Regions from separate parts of the Homo sapiens genome. Here all the other regions are reported to be linked to region 3. Evidence: microRNA targets listed by miRTarBase, many of them from high-throughput screens and not tested one by one. Region 3 holds a microRNA gene; each other region holds the end of a gene's coding sequence. Distances are between the middles of the regions.
Evidence for each region. The annotated mature microRNA hsa-miR-1200 reads CUCCUGAGCCAUUCUGAGCCUC and lies in region 3 at 1,745-1,766, opposite strand. An mRNA with a match to its seed (bases 2 to 7 or 8) in the 3' UTR can be bound and repressed. Matches are read on the target gene's strand: a 7mer-m8 pairs with bases 2 to 8, a 7mer-A1 pairs with bases 2 to 7 and ends in A, and an 8mer does both.

Region 1 (3,000 bases), 17 Mb from region 3:
ACTTGTCATTTATACTTGTGTATCTTATAGACAAAACGGTAAGCCCTTAAGAGCAGAAACTGCTTAAAAGTCATTTCTGTATCACTGGTGACTAGTGAGGTGTCTTGCACAGTGAAATGGGTGAATGATAGGAACTGGAGAGAGGGTAAGGGATCTAGTCTAGGCTATAGGGTTTGTATGAGCAAATTCCAAGATAGAAAAGATAGACTAGGTTAGTGCAGCATGTGCCAAATGTTTTGAAGAATACATAGTGGACACCATCATCAGTCTTTCTGTGTCAGAAAGACAAACAAAAAAAACAATGAACAAAGTTATGCTATTCTAGGAAAGACAAATGGCCAGATCTGACTTTTCAAAACTACTCACATTGTGAAAAAAGCAGGAACAAATCTAGTTTCAAGTTCAGCATGCCGTTCCCTGTTTAATTCATAAAACACAACTGGCAGAAGTATTACTTGAAGCAAAACAAAAGTAACGTGGGAACTTGCTTATTTGCTAAGCCACAATGTATTTTTCCAGGAATAGCATAAATTTGCCATCTTTCTTGTGTCTATGGAAAAGGGGTTTAGAATTGTTTCACTAAAAATTAAATTTCTATATTGTCAAACATGATTGTATACTCAAATTTTAAAATGTGAAGGGAACACTTACTAAGCATTTCCTGGGTATGCCACTATATTAAGTCCTAGTAATATGATATAGTTTATTTCAATTTTTTTTCAACTCATACTTCCTTTAAAATAGCACTGACCAAAAGAAAGTTAACATGAGCTTCATGTACAATTTTTAATCTTTTTGCAGAAAAATAAACTGAGAAAGGCTAAAATTGTTTTATTTAAGCCACTATACCAAGACATATTGATTTCACCAATATAAAAATTGAGATAGTTTACATTTTTTGGTACATCTTTAAAATCTGGTATGTATTTTATACTGACAGCACATCTCAATTTGGACAAGCTACATTTCCAGGGCTCAATAGTCACATGAATCTCAATTGTAATCAAAGAGGTTGGCCTGCATCCTTCCATTGTCTAGCACATCTACTTGTAGACAATTGTGAACATCTGCCACTCTGCCAATTCTATATCCCATCATTGTAAGTTCAGATCAACATATACCACTAGCAGAATTTATTCATTACCAAATATTAAGCTGTGAGACCAGCACTATGTCTGGTACTAAATAAATGGCAACAAAAATGCTGACATGGGAGTTCAACCATTCATGCATTTGCAGATACTAACACAGGTAACAGTGAGTGAACAATCCTCCCCCTTTTTTTCATACCACTTAATACAATTATTAATTTTCTTATTTATTGTGTGTATATGCACATCTGTTTCTCTTATGACATGCCACAAGGGAAGGAACTACATCTATCTTGTTTGCCATTGTATCCCTGGGCCTTAGCAGAATGTGTTATACAAAGTAGATGGTCAAGTGTGTGGAAAATGAATAAATATGGCCATGCATTGATTACCAGCTTCAACCAGCTTGTCATTTCATTACACTTTGTCAATTAGTCAAGAGACATTCCACATTTTCTCAATGAAAGCAGTGAACAGAACAACTGTTTTCTCTTCAGCACAATATCTTATAGCCCATTCCAATCATTAAAAAGTAATCTGAAATTTCCCACTAGTCAGAATCACATTTATCCTGTCTTCATTAGACTGTCCTCCAACACACAACAAAACTAGAATGGCTGAGGCACAAATGAACAAGTACAAGAAAACAGTCCTTTCCAGCAACCTCTCAGACTTAAGAAGACAAGGACACACATGCACTTGGAAGAAAGAAAAGAAAATAATGAATAGCATTTACCACCACACAGTCAGTACTGGCCTGGCTTTTAAGAGCTGTGAAGACTTCAGAAACTTCTTTGGCAAACTATTTTATGTTAAACAATAGAAATACTGTAGAAAGCCATGATAAAGGAAAACCTAAAATTAGTTAATGTCCTGAGTTTTTAAAAAAGCAAAATAAAATAGCATGTAATAAGGTGAAGCCTATTAAACACACACAAAATCAAATCATCAAAATCTCAAACTTAACTCATTCTTTAGTAATATAATATTGTATTATAAAGTCCTTTGGCTAGTCTTGACATTGTAGAAATAATTTTATGTAGAGTGCAAAACCTGGAAGAATATGAGAGCTGACAGTGAGAGCAGCTTTTTATTTTGTATAAAATGGTATTTTAACAATACTGGCTTTCCCCAAATTAATTTACAGTCAGTTTTATCATTTTTAGCATATAAAGCCTCCTACTCCTAGTTAAGTATTTTCTGTTTTGTAAACTACTGGCATACTTAACCTTTTCATATCACTGAAAACATTTATTCATCTATTGTATGTAGATCGATCTTTTAAAAACTGAATCGTGTTTAAAATACACTAAAGAAAATTACTTTTCCCTTTTCTTTTTGGTGAGCATTTCAAAGGTGGGGTAAATTCGGCCTCTTCACTGTGTTTTCTTTTCTTTTTTTTCTTTTTATGGTCACTTTGGTAACCACTGGAGTCACTGCCTTGGAAAACAGGGTCCTGGTCCTGAACTTCCTGGTGCTTTTTCTTCTTCTTCTTTTTCTTTGGCTCCTCCTCCCAGATGCCATTCGCATTATTAGTATTCTGCAGGGCTGACTCTTCCATTGGAGTGTCATCTGCATCATCTGCTAGCTTTGTGGTACCACTGTCCACTTCATATGTCTCTGGGTCTTTCTTCTTTTTCTTCTTTTTAGGTTTTTTAGCAGCTTCCTCAGTGCCATTTTCTGTAACTTCTTCAGAAACTTCAGAGCGCTTGAATTGTAAACTATAAATTAACAGTTAAAAAAATTAACAGAACAATAAGCAAAAAACAAAGAACAAATTGAGATCAAGATATCCCAACAGGCTAAGATTTTCTAAATAATGACTCCAGTACAAGACACATAACCATGGCATAAATTCCAAATATTCTATCCTGTTATCCCTCAACCCACTAAAATATGTATGGGCTGC
Region 2 (3,198 bases), not on the chromosome of region 3:
TCCCTTCTCTCTCTCTGTCCAGGGACCCCTGACTGAATCCTGGAAAGATGGCAACCCCCTGAAGAAGCCTCCCCCAGCTGTTGCCCCCTCGTCAGGGGAGGAAGGAGAGCTCCATTATGCAACCCTCAGCTTCCATAAAGTGAAGCCTCAGGACCCGCAGGGACAGGAGGCCACTGACAGTGAATACTCGGAGATCAAGATCCACAAGCGAGAAACTGCAGAGACTCAGGCCTGTTTGAGGAATCACAACCCCTCCAGCAAAGAAGTCAGAGGCTGATTCTCATAGAACAAGAACCCTCTAGAGCCCCATGCTATGCAGTAGGTCACCAGGGCTCCCTCCTCCTGTCTAACCAAAACTTGGACCAATGTCTCCCCTTTCCCCGGCTACCAGGGACCCATCCCTGCCTCTAGCTTCTACTACCCACCATTCTCCTCTCGACCTCTCTGAGGTTGACTATTTTAGATTCCACATAGAGATGAGGTCATGTGGTACTTGCCTCTCTGTGTGTGGCTCATTTTACACAAAAAAATATCCCCTAGGTTCATCCATGTTCTCTCAAATGACAGAATCAAGCACTGAATATTTTTTTTTCTTTGAGAGATGGAGTTTCGCTCTGTTGCCCAGGCTGGAGTGCAGTGGTTCAATCTCTGCTCACTGCAACCTCCACCTCCTGGGTTCAAACGATTCTCCTGCCTCAGCTTCCCAAGTAGCTGGTACTACAGGCGTGTGTCACCACGCCCAGCTAATTTTTGTATTTTTTAGTAGAGACGGGGTTTCACTATAAGTGGGCCAGGCTAGTCTCAAACTCCTGACCTCAAGTGATCTGCCTGCCTTGGCCTCCCAAAGTGCTGGGATTTCAGGCATGAGCCACCGCACCCAGCTTGCATTGAATATTTTCAAGGAGCTAAAAGAAGATTTTAAATGGTCTCACAAAAACAGATAAATATTTGCACAGATGGGTGTGCTAATCATTGTGCCTTGATGGTTCCACGATGTATCCGGGTGTGGAAATCTCACTGGGTCTCTCTCAAGGCCACTCGGCTACTCAGGACAGGGCTGGAATTTAAAGCCTGTCCGATTCTGAGGTCTCTTCTCTCATCTAGCACTGAGTCAAGCAATCAGCAGGCTGGGCACCCCTTAGCCATAAGTTTTCAGGAAATAAATTCCTTGAGGGCATTGACTTTTACAAAAGAGGGAGCAGCAATGGCCTAGAGTCTCAGGAACAAGACAGGTGCACTGAGGAGATGAAGGCCGGGACCCCCTGCCCAACCTGTATGGCGGGTCTGTACTTATTTTGTTTACCCCCAATTTAAAACGTTTTTTTTTATTGCAGGTTGTTTGTTTGATATGGTTTGGCTGTGTCCCCACCCAAATCTTATCTAGAATTGTAATCAGAATTATAATCCCCATGTGTTGGGGGAGGGACCTGGTGGGAGGTGATAGGATCATGGGGGTGGTTCCCCCATGCTGTTCTGATAGTGAGTGAGTTATCACGAGATCTGATGGTTTTGTAAGTGGTGGTTTCCCCTGCTCTTCTCTCTTGCCTGCCACCATGTAAGATGTGCCTGGTTCCCCTTCCGCCATGATTGTAAGTTTCCTGAGGCCTCCCCCGCCATGTGGAACTGTGAGTCAATTACACCTCTTTCATTTATAAATTACTCAGTCTCAGGTATTTCTTAATAGCAGTGTGAAAACAGGCTAACACATTGTTCTTTGAAATTTAAAAATAGCGTTAGCTTTTCAGTTGAATCACGCAGCTCTTACATGTGCCATGCCATGAGTGTTGCCAAACATGCACCCCTGTGTAACCAGCTTCTCAATCAAGGATAGAGAAATTTTCCTTCACTCCAGAAAGATCCTGGTGTCCTTCCCAGTCAATCCCTAGCCCTGAGAGCCACCACTTTCTGATTCCTATCACCAGATATTATTTTCCATGTCCCTTGAACTTCATATAATTGGCATCACCCAATGTGTATTCTTGTGTCTTTTGTTTTTCACTCAGTGTTGCGTTGTTGTTGTTGTTGTTGTTGTTGTTGTTGAAGACAGAGTCTCACTCTGTCTCCCAGGCTGGAGTGCAGTGGCGTGATCTCGGCTCACTGCAGCCTCCACCTCCCGAGTTCAAGTGATTCTCCTGCCTCAGCCTCCTGAGTAGCTGGAACTACAGGCGCACGCCACCACACCCAGCTAATTTTTGTATTTTTAGTAGAGACATGGTTTCACCATGTTGGCCAGGATAGTCTCGATCTCCTGACCTTGTGATCCACCCACCTCGGCCTCCCAAAGTGCTGGGATTACAGGCATGAGCCACCGCACCCGGCCGCATTGCATGTTTTGAGATTCATCCATGCTGTGTGTGTCAGTATCTTTTCCTCTTTATTGCTGAGTAGGACACCATTGCATTGTATGAGCAAATCACAATTCATTCCCTTATTTTTTCCTATTCATTGATACTGTTTTGGTTGTGGCAATTATCAAGACAGCTGCTGTGAACATATTTGTATGATAGTGTATTGAGATGTTTCCATTTCTCTCTAGGATTTGGGGCAGGGCTGAGATAGGAACAATGAGGTTGGATTCCCATGCTGGCCTTTCGAGAGTATCCAGGATGTCCTGTGGAGATGACATTCAGCAGCTCAGGAGGGACAGAGGGAGGGGCTGGAGATGGACACAGGAAACATCAGAGGGTCTCATCATCCTGATAATGGAGTTGTTGTGGGTTGAATCTTGTCCCCCAGAGAGATATGTTCAAGTCCTAACTCCCAGTATCTATGTCTGTGGCTTTATTTGGAAATAGTCTTTGCAGATGTAGCCAAGCTAATATTAGGAGGTCATACTGTATGAGGTGGGCCCTAAGTGCCATGACTGGTGTCCTAATGCAATAAGGGAAATTGAACACAAGACACACATAGGGAGGAAGGCCACGTGACAGCGGAGGCAGAGGTTGGGGTTTTGCTGCCACAGCCCCCAGAAGCTAGAAGACGCCAGGAAGAGTCTTCCCAGCACTTTCCGAGGGAGACAGCCCAATGACACCATGACTTGGGACATTTGGCCTTCATAACGTCAAAGAATAAATTTCTGTGGCTTTAAGTCACCAAGTTTGTGGGAATTTGATATGGAAGCCCTAAGAAGCCAACACACCTGACACCAACACACCTGCTGGCACCTGCTATGCACTGGGAACTGGACCCATCCTGTCT
Region 3 (3,198 bases):
CTCTGATTTGTTTCTATTAAGTAAAACAATCTGAAATTAAAGAGGCATACATCACATCTGGACCCCAGGATCCAACTCCTGGACACGTATCCCAGATATAACTCTCACAAAGGTCCCCAAGGGTCACAAATAAGGATGTTAGCTGCAGAATTCTCTGTGGTAGCAGGGAGCTGAGTGTCTATCAACTGGGGAAGATATAAACAAAATGGAATAAATGCAGACAATGAAATATTATGCAAATGTGGGAAGTTTATACAACATAGATATATCTGAAAACATAATACTGAGTGAAAAAATAAGCATTCTTACTTTCTATATAGTCTATATTACAGAGATTTATCATTTATGTAAATTAAAACAAACACACACAAAAATAATATATAATTTTGTAAAGACATTCATTTTAGTTCTAGCATATTAGGTGGTTCTCTGAGGAGGGAAGGAAATGGGTGTAGGGAATGGGGGGTGAAGAGGAACAATAACAAAATAAGAGGAGGGTCTTGCATGGCCTTAGGGTGACAATAAGCTATGAACTGAGCAGTATGCATAACTCAACTCCATATCTGAGGGCCAATTAATTCTTTAAACATTGTTGAGTTCTTGTACAGATTAAACCAGATCTATAAGTCAAACTTCTGGCAATGTAGGAGGTGCTCAACACCTATTTGCTCCCCCTGTGGCTCTCAGAAAATGTAAAAGGGATGGGGTTTTCTTTTGCTTCTCTAATAATTTTATAAGTGAAAATATGAGTCTCAAGAGAATGAGGTAAGAAGAGTAGCACTCAGATATGAGTGTAGAAGGCTAGTTCTCCACCCTGGGTGCATATCACAGTCACCCAGGGGATTCACAGAAAATTCAGATAATCAGGCCCAATCCACTCGTTCCCTCCCCCAGTGACAATGTGTATCATCATCTCTAAGGGCAGGAGGAATAGGGGCCAGGGCCAGGGTCCACAGTACATTTTGAAAAGCATTAGCCTTGTGCTGGAGGGTCTGTCTGTCCGCTGTGCTCTCAGCCACTCATGTTCTTTGGATTGTTGCTTTTGAAACTTTCAAGGGCTTTTGCTAAATAAAGCGTCACCAAACTGCTCAAAAAGAAATACATTTCAAAATATATGATTAGTGTATACAGTATGGTACCCCATCTGCTCTTCCAAAATACTTGAGTTTTAGAAAATAATGTGTAGACAGGTCTATAAATTGCTACCTCCCACAAAACAAAGTAGACTCACTTTAAGGGGTAAGGAAAAATATTTTTTTTCTTTTGGTTTACCCATAGCAAGAGAGTTAATCTATAAGAGCAAGCAAGCATGCCTTCATTCATTCATTCATTCATTCAGTCAGTCAGTCAGTCAGTTGGCACTTGGGCTAAAATAAAGTACTTTATTCTAGGGATGGTTCAGCTAACTTATAGGAATTTAGCATCCATAATAAATAGAACTTGCACAAACGTAGCAACTTTTCTTCTCACAGCTCAATATTCAAGCAAGTAAATATGCACCTTGGGTTGCAAGATCCTAGAAGGCAGAGAATGTAACTCTGTTGAATGTCACTATGTGCTCCATGTTATCCAGCATTTGGTTAATAGTGACTAGGATAATCGTTCATGTCTATTACATTTCCCACAGCATATAGCATCGTGTGAGTCTCAGCCTTTTCTAACACTGCTCAGATGCTGGCTGAAGACTTTGGGACTTCAGGCTATCCCTGACAAATTCCTGAACCAATCTCTCTGGCAAGTGATTGAGGCTCAGAATGGCTCAGGAGAAGTAGCATAGTAAACTAGGAAGAATGTGGGCTTTGGGGTCACAGAACTCTGGATTTGAAACCTGGTTCTCTCACTTATGGGCTAAGTCTCTTCATCTGTAAAATGGGATAATGGCATCAACCTTGCTGGGTTGCTATGATAATTAGATAATGTACACTCAGTGCCTAGAACAGAGTAGGCCTGGCAACTGTGGAAGGGAGGCTGCTGCCAATCAAAGTGTGTTGCTGCACACTCAGTATCAAGTATCCTAAAAGAAGCTCTGATTCCCCATTGCTCATGAAACTCTAGTTTGTATTTCCAAGCTCTGTGATCGATGCTGGGCTCACGGGGAAGAGTTTCTGCAATCCAAAGCTCCCATCAGAATGGGAGCCCTTCCTGAACCCTATTGCTAATGTGACTGCAAATAAAACAACCTGTCTAATCATTTCCATCTCCCTTCCTCTGATTCATTTAAGGAACGAATCAATGCCTTAATTATGTGAACCATTCAGAACTATAATGTGTCACGACTGGGAACGCCCTATGAGATGCCAAAAGCCCCACCCCTTTTGACATCAACAGTGGCCTGGATCAGGGATGCTTTGGTTCTTTCCTTTGGGCACTCTACTCTGGAATGATGTCCAATCACTTTCTTCTGCAAGGGCCAACCTCACACTTTATCCCTTCAGCCTGGCCACTAAGACCCAGCTCTTGCCTCTTCTACTCTGGCTAATATGCCCCTTGGCCAGGCCACCACACAGTCAACTACAGGGCTTATGAACTACCTGAAAAATATTTGCTGAATAGAAGTCAATGAGTATGTGAAAATGAATGAATGAGTGAATGAAATAAGTTGCTTCTCATCTCTGAATGAGATTTGGATTAATTGTTTCATTGGACTGTTGCCCCATGCAAGCAACTATCATCTGGCAGTGCCTCTGGAGGAAGAGGCTGACCTCATATAGCTCTAAATATGAAGTCCAAACATATAGTTTATGTTTCCTAATTCAGCTGATTTGTGGATATTAAAAACAACTGCCACAATGTCCAAAACTAGATGGTTCTTTAAAGTTAATCACAACATGGTTTTTGGTTTATATTCTAAAACATAATCTCTCACCCAATACATTAATTTACATATCCACATAATGAAATTCATGCATATATATGTGCACATATTTTAATGAATCTAAATAGATCACTATAGTTTTATGCATGAAAGGCTTTTAAAAAAATCTGGCATAAAACATAGCCATATTAAATCCCTCTCCAACATGGTAATTTAAGAACAGAATTTTCCATGTTGTTTTCTACTGCTGATTTCATTTTCTACTGTTAGACTGACCACCTTGTGTCTCCTGAAATGCCGTCTTGCTTGAAAAGTCCTTCTTAACTCTCCCACAAGTCACTCTCTTCTCTATGAACCCCAAATCCTTTTTATAGGTCTCCATG
Region 4 (3,089 bases), not on the chromosome of region 3:
TCAGCACTTTGGGAGGCCCAGGTGGGCAGATCACCTGAGGTCAGGAGTTCAAGACCAGCCTGGACAACATGGTAAAACCCCCATCTCTACTAAAAATACAAACATTAGCCGGCCATGGTGGTGTGTGCCTGTGGTCCCAGCTATTCGGGAGGCTGAGGCACAAGAATTGCTTGAACCTGGAAGGCAGAGGTTGAAGTGAGCCAAATCAGGCCACTACACTCCAGCCTGGGCCATAGTGAGACTCCATCTCAAAAAAACAGAATAGGCATGAGGAGGGCTCTGGGTTCAGCTGGGACACGCTGCCTGTGCCTCTGGCCTCACCACCTGACCCACATCCCACAGACTTGGAACGCAGTGCTGCTGCGCTATTTCAACCCCACAGGTGCCCATGCCTCTGGCTGCATTGGTGAGGATCCCCAGGGCATACCCAACAACCTCATGCCTTATGTCTCCCAGGTAAGGCAAAAGGGAAGGGACAGAGGAGTGGCCCTGGGGTTAAAGCTGGTGCCTGGGATCTGGGACGAACTGACCTGATCTCCACCTCCAGGTGGCGATCGGGCGACGGGAGGCCCTGAATGTCTTTGGCAATGACTATGACACAGAGGATGGCACAGGTGAGCCTAGGACCAGGGGGACCTAGGAGTGGGAGCCAGGAAGGAGAGTCAGGGGGAACAGACTCCCCATCCAACACACTCCCTTCTCTGCAGGTGTCCGGGATTACATCCATGTCGTGGATCTGGCCAAGGGCCACATTGCAGCCTTAAGGAAGCTGAAAGAACAGTGTGGCTGCCGGGTAGGAAGAGAAGGGAGAAGTGAGGGAGGGGAGGGACCAGATCCAGGCAGAGCGGCCCAGAGGCGTGGTCAGTCCAGCCCGCTCCATAAACCCTGTTCTCCGTGGGCCAGATCTACAACCTGGGCACGGGCACAGGCTATTCAGTGCTGCAGATGGTCCAGGCTATGGAGAAGGCCTCTGGGAAGAAGGTAGGCCCCCCCGCCCCACCCACCTCACCCACCTCACCCCACCCAGCTCTCAGCAACAGAGCAGCTTTGGCCCTTCCCACTCACCTCTCTGGAGGGTACCTGGCACTGCCCAGTCTCCTCAGCCTGCCTAGCACCCGGTGCCTGCGGGCCAGCCGCTGCTCTGCACTTCTGCTTCTTAAAGACCTGGCCAGCAGCTGGGCCAGGGCCGGCTCAGCTAAGCTCCAACTACCTCCTGTCTTGCAGATCCCGTACAAGGTGGTGGCACGGCGGGAAGGTGATGTGGCAGCCTGTTACGCCAACCCCAGCCTGGCCCAAGAGGAGCTGGGGTGGACAGCAGCCTTAGGGCTGGACAGGATGTGTGAGTGCTGGCCTGACCCCTGCAGTTAGGGGCCAGGGAGGGGCTAAATCAGATCTGGGCATGCCCACCCAGGGCGGGCTGTGGGGTGGGGGAGGCTCTGCATTCCACCGTGGGCCCTGAGCACACACCTCGCCGTGTTGCAGGTGAGGATCTCTGGCGCTGGCAGAAGCAGAATCCTTCAGGCTTTGGCACGCAAGCCTGAGGACCCTCCCCTACCAAGGACCAGGAAAAGCAGCAGCTGCCTGCTCTCCAGCCTCTGGCAGGAACTCAGGGCCCTGGAGCTGCTGGGGCCAAGCCAAGGCCTCCCCTACCTCAAACCCCAGCTGGGCCCGCTTAGCCCACCAGGCATGAGGCCAAGGGCTCCACTGACCAGGAGGCCGAGGTCTCTAACTCTTATCTTCCACAGGGTCCAAGAGTTCATCAGGACCCCCAAGAGTGAGTGAGGGGGCAAGGCTCTGGCACAAAACCTCCTCCTCCCAGGCACTCATTTATATTGCTCTGAAAGAGCTTTCCAAAGTATTTAAAAATAAAAACAAGTTTTCTTACACTGGGGCAGGTTCTCACAGATGGTCACTATCCACCCCTGGAATAGAATCAGCCAGGCCTGAGCGTTGAGGAAGCAATTTCTTTAATTTTATCGGAATCCAGGACACAACAAGAAAAACACCCAAAAACCACATGGAGACAGAAGACGAGACACAACTCCTCCCCCACTGCCTCCCTGCTCTAGAGTGGGGACAAAGTGGGGGTGAGACAGCTGGGGGGAGACCTGAACCTCAGTCCAGCCCTACAGGCTCCAGGCCTGCAGGGAAGGAGGGTAACGGGGAGGCAGGGCCCAGCCCCCCAGTGTGGGGAAACAGCTGAGGGAAGGCCCCCCTCAAAAGGCTCCACCTCCTCACCAGCACTCCTGCCCAGGGACAGGGAGCCCACAGCAGCAAGGGGACCCCGGGGCCATGGCCACATTCATGACTGAGAAGCAGCTGAGTGGAGGCAGGAGACACGATTATCTGGGCAGAATCAGTTGGGGCAGGGGCCTGGGGGGGCCCCATGGGCCAAACCCTGAGGTCACAGGAGGGGGCCCAAAGCGGGGCTAGTGAGTGAGGTCCTGAGTGAGTGGGTCAGCGGCTGGGCCCCTTTCTCCAGCTGCCTGTAGCCCCTCCAATACTGCTGCCAGGGGGGCCCGCCTCCAGGGAAATGGATAAGAAAGCAGCCTGCCCCTGCTGCAGACAGAGCCAGGTGGCTAAGGCCAGGAAGGAAGGCCCGGCCAGGCCTTGCCACCTGCCCCCAGAGGCCTGTGGGAAAAGGACAGGTCAGGAAGGGTGGGGACAGGGGCTCGACCGGCTCAGATCCAAGATGGTGCCACGCTTGCTTGCTGAGTCCCCCATGAGCTGGGGTACTGCACTGGGGCCAGCGACTAGTTAGACAGGAGGCAGCAGCTTCTCAAGAAATTCCTTCACAGCTGCCATCTCCTGAGGGGATTAAGAGGGGATCACGAGAGGCACCTGGCTGGAGGCAGAGAAGTGGGAGTGGGAAATGGTCCCCCCACTGACCTGAGGACAGGAGCTGTGCATGACACCCGGGTATGTCTTGAACTGGACCCTGGCAGGTGTGACAACAGACCGGAGCTTCTCAGCCGTCAGGGCCCCAAACCGTACGGGCACCATGGGGTCCAGCTCCCCATGGCACTGGAGTATGGCCAGGTCCTTGGCACTGCCATTAGCTGCCTGGAGGCCGGACAGGACTCAGGGCA

Region 1: miRTarBase lists POLR1F as a target of hsa-miR-1200. Seed matches in the 3' UTR shown: 7mer-m8 at 1,963-1,969.
Region 2: miRTarBase lists SIGLEC8 as a target of hsa-miR-1200. Seed matches in the 3' UTR shown: 7mer-m8 at 1,046-1,052, 7mer-A1 at 1,153-1,159 and 8mer at 1,217-1,224.
Region 4: miRTarBase lists LYPLA2 as a target of hsa-miR-1200. Seed matches in the 3' UTR shown: 7mer-m8 at 2,443-2,449.

What each region holds. Positions count from the first base shown.
Region 1 is chr7:19,695,916-19,698,915 of GRCh38, forward strand. It overlaps POLR1F (RNA polymerase I subunit F), which reads right to left. Exons shown (of 4, transcript NM_001002926.2): 4 at 1-2,812. The coding sequence ends at 2,401. Among named protein-coding and RNA genes, the nearest start is that of MIR3146, 8.0 kb to the right of the region's middle.
Region 2 is chr19:51,449,458-51,452,655 of GRCh38, reverse strand. It overlaps SIGLEC8 (sialic acid binding Ig like lectin 8), which reads left to right. Exons shown (of 7, transcript NM_014442.3): 7 at 23-1,659. The coding sequence ends at 277. Among named protein-coding and RNA genes, the nearest start is that of SIGLEC8, 7.4 kb to the left of the region's middle.
Region 3 is chr7:36,917,659-36,920,856 of GRCh38, forward strand. MIR1200 (microRNA 1200) reads right to left here and starts at 1,774; the gene lies at 1,699-1,774. All of the region lies in intron 16 of ELMO1 (engulfment and cell motility 1), which reads right to left.
Region 4 is chr1:23,794,401-23,797,489 of GRCh38, reverse strand. LYPLA2 (lysophospholipase 2) reads right to left here. Exons shown (of 10, transcript NM_007260.3): 9 at 2,890-3,063; 10 at 1,951-2,808. The coding sequence ends at 2,758. GALE (UDP-galactose-4-epimerase) reads left to right here. Exons shown (of 12, transcript NM_001008216.2): 7 at 343-456; 8 at 548-614; 9 at 708-793; 10 at 904-981; 11 at 1,225-1,339; 12 at 1,483-1,891. The coding sequence ends at 1,541. Among named protein-coding and RNA genes, the nearest start is that of LYPLA2, 4.8 kb to the right of the region's middle.